Linked DNA regions of Homo sapiens. The protein of the gene in region 1 purifies or fractionates together with the protein of each later gene. This does not show direct contact. Each region holds a gene or a part of one and is shown on either strand. Other genes may lie near its edges. The genes, in order: DMPK and PDCD10.

Evidence for each region.
Region 2: the proteins of DMPK (region 1) and PDCD10 purify together in Homo sapiens (affinity purification with mass spectrometry, with the first as the bait; one large-scale study listed by BioGRID). This does not show direct contact.

Annotation. Positions count from the first base shown.
Region 1 is NC_000019.10:45,775,941-45,779,755, reverse strand, and holds part of DMPK (myotonin-protein kinase), read left to right. Parts: intron 1-136; exon of another isoform or gene 137-233; coding exon 234-317; intron 318-396; coding exon 397-492; exon of another isoform or gene 493-622; intron 623-1,114; coding exon 1,115-1,263; intron 1,264-1,535; coding exon 1,536-1,629; intron 1,630-1,882; coding exon 1,883-2,089; intron 2,090-2,165; coding exon 2,166-2,429; intron 2,430-3,815. UniProt on the Homo sapiens protein: Non-receptor serine/threonine protein kinase which is necessary for the maintenance of skeletal muscle structure and function.
Region 2 is NC_000003.12:167,724,656-167,728,470, forward strand, and holds part of PDCD10 (programmed cell death protein 10), read right to left. Parts: intron 819-3,815; exon of another isoform or gene 746-818; intron 1-745. UniProt on the Homo sapiens protein: Promotes cell proliferation. Modulates apoptotic pathways. Increases mitogen-activated protein kinase activity and STK26 activity. Important for cell migration, and for normal structure and assembly of the Golgi complex.

The DNA.
Region 1 (3,815 bases):
CTGACTTGACTCGTGGTGGGCGGGGCATAGGGGTTGGGGCGGGGCCTTAGAAATTGATGAATGACCGAGCCTTAGAACCTAGGGCTGGGCTGGAGGCGGGGCTTGGGACCAATGGGCGTGGTGTGGCAGGTGGGGCGGGGCCACGGCTGGGTGCAGAAGCGGGTGGAGTTGGGTCTGGGCGAGCCCTTTTGTTTTCCCGCCGTCTCCACTCTGTCTCACTATCTCGACCTCAGGTAGCGGTAGTGAAGATGAAGCAGACGGGCCAGGTGTATGCCATGAAGATCATGAACAAGTGGGACATGCTGAAGAGGGGCGAGGTGAGGGGCTGGGCGGACGTGGGGGGCTTTGAGGATCCGCGCCCCGTCTCCGGCTGCAGCTCCTCCGGGTGCCCTGCAGGTGTCGTGCTTCCGTGAGGAGAGGGACGTGTTGGTGAATGGGGACCGGCGGTGGATCACGCAGCTGCACTTCGCCTTCCAGGATGAGAACTACCTGGTGAGCTCCGGGCCGGGGTGACTAGGAAGAGGGACAAGAGCCCGTGCTGTCACTGGACGAGGAGGTGGGGAGAGGAAGCTCTAGGATTGGGGGTGCTGCCCGGAAACGTCTGTGGGAAAGTCTGTGTGCGGTAAGAGGGTGTGTCAGGTGGATGAGGGGCCTTCCCTATCTGAGACGGGGATGGTGTCCTTCACTGCCCGTTTCTGGGGTGATCTGGGGGACTCTTATAAAGATGTCTCTGTTGCGGGGGGTCTCTTACCTGGAATGGGATAGGTCTTCAGGAATTCTAACGGGGCCACTGCCTAGGGAAGGAGTGTCTGGGACCTATTCTCTGGGTGTTGGGTGGCCTCTGGGTTCTCTTTCCCAGAACATCTCAGGGGGAGTGAATCTGCCCAGTGACATCCCAGGAAAGTTTTTTTGTTTGTGTTTTTTTTTGAGGGGCGGGGGCGGGGGCCGCAGGTGGTCTCTGATTTGGCCCGGCAGATCTCTATGGTTATCTCTGGGCTGGGGCTGCAGGTCTCTGCCCAAGGATGGGGTGTCTCTGGGAGGGGTTGTCCCAGCCATCCGTGATGGATCAGGGCCTCAGGGGACTACCAACCACCCATGACGAACCCCTTCTCAGTACCTGGTCATGGAGTATTACGTGGGCGGGGACCTGCTGACACTGCTGAGCAAGTTTGGGGAGCGGATTCCGGCCGAGATGGCGCGCTTCTACCTGGCGGAGATTGTCATGGCCATAGACTCGGTGCACCGGCTTGGCTACGTGCACAGGTGGGTGCAGCATGGCCGAGGGGATAGCAAGCTTGTTCCCTGGCCGGGTTCTTGGAAGGTCAGAGCCCAGAGAGGCCAGGGCCTGGAGAGGGACCTTCTTGGTTGGGGCCCACCGGGGGGTGCCTGGGAGTAGGGGTCAGAACTGTAGAAGCCCTACAGGGGCGGAACCCGAGGAAGTGGGGTCCCAGGTGGCACTGCCCGGAGGGGCGGAGCCTGGTGGGACCACAGAAGGGAGGTTCATTTATCCCACCCTTCTCTTTTCCTCCGTGCAGGGACATCAAACCCGACAACATCCTGCTGGACCGCTGTGGCCACATCCGCCTGGCCGACTTCGGCTCTTGCCTCAAGCTGCGGGCAGATGGAACGGTGAGCCAGTGCCCTGGCCACAGAGCAACTGGGGCTGCTGATGAGGGATGGAAGGCACAGAGTGTGGGAGCGGGACTGGATTTGGAGGGGAAAAGAGGTGGTGTGACCCAGGCTTAAGTGTGCATCTGTGTGGCGGAGTATTAGACCAGGCAGAGGGAGGGGCTAAGCATTTGGGGAGTGGTTGGAAGGAGGGCCCAGAGCTGGTGGGCCCAGAGGGGTGGGCCCAAGCCTCGCTCTGCTCCTTTTGGTCCAGGTGCGGTCGCTGGTGGCTGTGGGCACCCCAGACTACCTGTCCCCCGAGATCCTGCAGGCTGTGGGCGGTGGGCCTGGGACAGGCAGCTACGGGCCCGAGTGTGACTGGTGGGCGCTGGGTGTATTCGCCTATGAAATGTTCTATGGGCAGACGCCCTTCTACGCGGATTCCACGGCGGAGACCTATGGCAAGATCGTCCACTACAAGGTGAGCACGGCCGCAGGGAGACCTGGCCTCTCCCGGTAGGCGCTCCCAGGCTATCGCCTCCTCTCCCTCTGAGCAGGAGCACCTCTCTCTGCCGCTGGTGGACGAAGGGGTCCCTGAGGAGGCTCGAGACTTCATTCAGCGGTTGCTGTGTCCCCCGGAGACACGGCTGGGCCGGGGTGGAGCAGGCGACTTCCGGACACATCCCTTCTTCTTTGGCCTCGACTGGGATGGTCTCCGGGACAGCGTGCCCCCCTTTACACCGGATTTCGAAGGTGCCACCGACACATGCAACTTCGACTTGGTGGAGGACGGGCTCACTGCCATGGTGAGCGGGGGCGGGGTAGGTACCTGTGGCCCCTGCTCGGCTGCGGGAACCTCCCCATGCTCCCTCCATAAAGTTGGAGTAAGGACAGTGCCTACCTTCTGGGGTCCTGAATCACTCATTCCCCAGAGCACCTGCTCTGTGCCCATCTACTACTGAGGACCCAGCAGTGACCTAGACTTACAGTCCAGTGGGGGAACACAGAGCAGTCTTCAGACAGTAAGGCCCCAGAGTGATCAGGGCTGAGACAATGGAGTGCAGGGGGTGGGGGACTCCTGACTCAGCAAGGAAGGTCCTGGAGGGCTTTCTGGAGTGGGGAGCTATCTGAGCTGAGACTTGGAGGGATGAGAAGCAGGAGAGGACTCCTCCTCCCTTAGGCCGTCTCTCTTCACCGTGTAACAAGCTGTCATGGCATGCTTGCTCGGCTCTGGGTGCCCTTTTGCTGAACAATACTGGGGATCCAGCACGGACCAGATGAGCTCTGGTCCCTGCCCTCATCCAGTTGCAGTCTAGAGAATTAGAGAATTATGGAGAGTGTGGCAGGTGCCCTGAAGGGAAGCAACAGGATACAAGAAAAAATGATGGGGCCAGGCACGGTGGCTCACGCCTGTAACCCCAGCAATTTGGCAGGCCGAAGTGGGTGGATTGCTTGAGCCCAGGAGTTCGAGACCAGCCTGGGCAATGTGGTGAGACCCCCGTCTCTACAAAAATGTTTTAAAAATTGGTTGGGCGTGGTGGCGCATGCCTGTATACTCAGCTACTAGGGTGGCCGACGTGGGCTTGAGCCCAGGAGGTCAAGGCTGCAGTGAGCTGTGATTGTGCCACTGCACTCCAGCCTGGGCAACGGAGAGAGACTCTGTCTCAAAAATAAGATAAACTGAAATTAAAAAATAGGCTGGGCTGGCCGGGCGTGGTGGCTCACGCCTGTAATCTCAGCACTTTGGGAGGCCGAGGCGGGTGGATCACGAGGTCAGGAGATCGAGACCATCTTGGCTAACACGGTGAAACCCCATCTCTCCTAAAAATACAAAAAATTAGCCAGGCGTGGTGGCGGGCGCCTGTAGTCCCAGCTACTCAGGAGGCTGAGGCAGGAGAATGGCGTGAACCCGGGAGGCAGAGTTTGCAGTGAGCCGAGATCGTGCCACTGCACTCCAGCCTGGGCGACAGAGCGAGACTCTGTCTCAGAAAAAAAAAAAAAAAAAAAAAAAAATAGGCTGGACCGCGGCCGGGCGCTGTGGCTCATGCCTGTAATCCCAGCACTTTGGGAGTCCAAGGCCGGTGGGTCATGAGATCAGGAGTTTTGAGACTAGGCTGGCCAACACGGTGAAACCCCGTCTCTACTAAAAATACAAGAAAATTAGCTGGGTGTGGTCTCGGGTGCCTGTAATTCCAGTTACTGGGGAA
Region 2 (3,815 bases), on another chromosome or scaffold:
AAATAGCATGCCTAGCAAAATAAAAACAAACACAAAAATCAAATTAATTCTATTAACAAAGCCTGGACCCAGCCACATTATCACTGGAACCAAAATTCAGTGATAATAAGACTTCATTATTGTTATCAGCTATACTTTCCAAAGTAATCTAATAGGAATTTCTTTAAGACAAATTTTTCTTTAAGCATCAAATCATTAAAAATTATTTACAAATTCTAATTAAGGAGGTCCTCCCCAAGAGTTGGTTAACCCAGGATTTCAATTAACTGACAATTCCTTGCTTTCTCTCAATAATATAACACAGAGAATCATACTCATCAGCTGGGCACGGTGGCTCATGCCTGTAATCCCAGCACTTTGGGAGGCCAAGGCAGGTGGATCACTTGAGGTCAGGAGTTCAAGACCAGCCTGGCTAATATGGTGAAACCCCATCTCTACTAAAAATACATAAACTAGCCAGATGCGGTGGTGGGCTTCTGTAGTCCCAGCTACTCAGGAGGCTGAGGCAAGGGAATTGCTTGGACCTGGAAGGCGGAAGTTGCAGTGAGTCGAGATCGTGCCACTGCACTCCAGCCTGGGCAACAGAGCGAGACTCTGTCTCAAAAAAGAAAAAAAAAAAAAAAAAAAAAAAAATCACTCATCAAACTCTTAGAGAAAATGGATTTTTACAAAGACTGTATAGATGGTAGTCTGGCCATTTAACAAAGCGGGGTGGGGTTAACATTTGCTGACACAGTTTACGTACCTTTTTAGGGCTTTCTCATGCCAAAATGCTGTTAGTCACTTCCAAACAAGAGACCAAGATTTAGAGGAGAAAGCTAGGAAAAAGGGAGGCAGAGGAATAGGGTAAGTCAGTGATCCTACTTAGAGTAAAATGAGCTTGATGTCTTAAGGATATACCTACATCTCTCTCCTTGACTTGCAAATTACATCTTCTATAATTCAATGTCTTCCATTTCCAGTTTTCTTAATAAAGTTAAGTGGAACCTAACCTCCCTGAACATACACTACTGTCAGTTTAGTACTTACAGAATTTTACACTTAGGGACATCTAGAAGCAATCTCTTGTTAATGGTAAGTGTATATAGCACTTTACCATTGTATCGTTTATATATATATATATATATATATATATATATATATATATATATATATATGCTTTAAAAATATTAAATGGACAATTTGTGCAGAAAGATACAGGGAAAAAGCATAAGCATTTAAAGTCTCAAAGCATGGGCTCAAATTCTGGTCCTGTCATTCATAAACTATCTTTGTCTCTGAACAAGTCATTTCACCTCTCTATCCTTTGGTTTCTTCTTTAATATGTCTGACAACTCTAGGGTACTTAGCAGCACAAGCTTGTGGATCTTCAACTTGGTGCTGCTGAGACTTCCAGCTCATCTTAAAAGTTAACTGCACCATGTCAAGTGTATGCACTTACATATTTTGTAGAGTACTGTTTTTTTTTTTTTTTTTTTTTTTTGAGACAGAGTTTCACTCTGTCACCCAGGCTGGGGTGCAGTGGCGTACCTCCACCCAGGTTCAAGCGATTCCCCTTCCTCAGCCTCTCGAGTACTGGGATTATAGGCACCTGCCACCACGCCTGGCTATTTTGTATTTTTAGTAGAGATGGGGGTTTCACCATGTTGGTCAGTTTGGTTTCAAACTCCTGACCTCAGGTGATCCACCCGCCTCAGCCTCCCAAAGTGCTGGGATTACAGGCGTGAGCCACTGTGCCTGGCCAGAGTACTGTTTCTTAATACAGAAATTTATAAAATGGGTAAGAAGTAACTTTTTCTACACATAGATAGACAGTATACAGCAGGAGATAGTGCTCAGTTTGGAAGGAAAAAAACCTCAGTTTGAATTTTTGCTCAGCTGGATGCTATCATTTCAGTTTTGTAAATCTCTATTTCTAAACTAGTGAGAAACAGAAATACTGAAGTACTCACTTCCCCAGATTAAGAGTACTAACTGCATATAAAATAGTTACTACAGTGGCTAACACATAATAACCATTCTATTCATATTGTTATTAATATTTTAGCCAAAATTCTAGGAACCTGACATGGAATCGATTGCAACTAGGGTGAGGCAAACCAGATGCCTAGAACACAAAATTTTGCTCTGATTTGCATGACTGAGAGAGTTAGTGCTTCTTCAAAGTTTGTACCCTAGGCATATCTCTTGCCTCACCCTAGTCCTGCCCCTGCATAACATACACAATGAGAGTCAAACACTGATATCACAATGTCATAAAGGCCACCTACATAGCATATTTTCAAAACCTTTTATCTCCCATTTGCCAAAATGGATGCATAAATACACTTAGTTTTGGCTTACATAAAAGAATTTGGCCATCAGGTGCATTTTAAAACTTTTTGCCAAACCAATGTTAAAATTACTTTTCTAAATGTACATAGATAAACTTAACAAAGGAAACCATGGCCCAGAAGCAGGCTGGGTAGCAGGCTGGGTTGCACACTGAAATCAAGATGTGATCAAAGCCCTTGAGATAATTCATAAAAGGTTTATAATCTGTACAAGATAATCAAAAGTTGACAACAAAATTAAAGAGCTCATTACCTCAGAATTAGCTGATGGGAAATGGAAACAGTAACAAAATAGTAACAATTGGCTCCTACGATATTTCAAAGCAACTTGTTCAGGGGGAAAAACATACATCTCTTTAGTTGTGACAATCCTCATTTTTTTTTCCTATGTCTAAATTTTTGGTAAATTCTGATCTGAGTAAAATTTAAATGAAAACACTTGTTGGAAGACAGGAAACAAATCTGTCCCCTTGAATATGTTCATCTTTTGCCCATAAAGTTCTCAACCTAATGGTTCATGAATAATGCCTAGTTGAATAGTTGTTTGGTGTTTAATTGAGGTACATGTCTATTTTCCTTTTTATTAGTATTATTCCTTGTCTTAGTTTCTCCAATACGATGTTAATTAAAGCTTTCCTTTAAAATCCCTTAGAAATTCAACTAAACTTAATTCCTCAGAGTGTTAGGTCCTCTCTGCTTAAAGGTACAATTAAAAGAATCTGTACCACCCTGGATCAGAGCTACTTGCTTTGTATCACTTATAATCTTAGATACCTAGAATTTAACTTAATGACTCCTAATGGCTTAAGATCCTCTAAAACATGCAACAGGTACTTTCATTACTTTACACAATTTCTTTGCACCAAAAACACTGCCACAGGGCACTCAAATGTTGACAGAAACTATTAGCCCCAGACAATAAATAGCCTCTGCCTTATTTAACATTAGGTGCTAATGAGGCCAAGGTTCTATCTTGATGATGACATTTAACTTTACCTTTAGCTCCCAATTGATCTCAAATACAAATACTATTTCTTACAAGAAGAAATTAGGGCTAGGATAGTATCTGTTTTTACTGCATCTACTGTTCCTCCTGTAACCTTCACTTCGCAAAAGTGTGATTTATTTTTTAAGGGAGCATACCAAAAATAAGGTAGAACCTTGGAAATCTCTCAAATTTTGACAGTACTGCATAAATACCGATTTTAATATGGATAAAGACATAGAGAAAGATGTGCAGTTCTCAATAAAAAAAAAAAAAGGATTCCAAATGCTTTGGAATTAAATGAAAAAAAGCCTAGCAACAATCTAAACTCGTATAGGGTGCAGTTGCTGTCTAGAGGCCAGGTCTGACTCATTTAACATTCCCAACTGGCTTCTGTTGTAGTAACCTTATATAAGTCTGAGGAGGCAGCCGGTGTGTAACATCTTAGGGTTTTGTCATTCCATAACTTCAATCTCAGTTGAATTCCAGTCTATCTT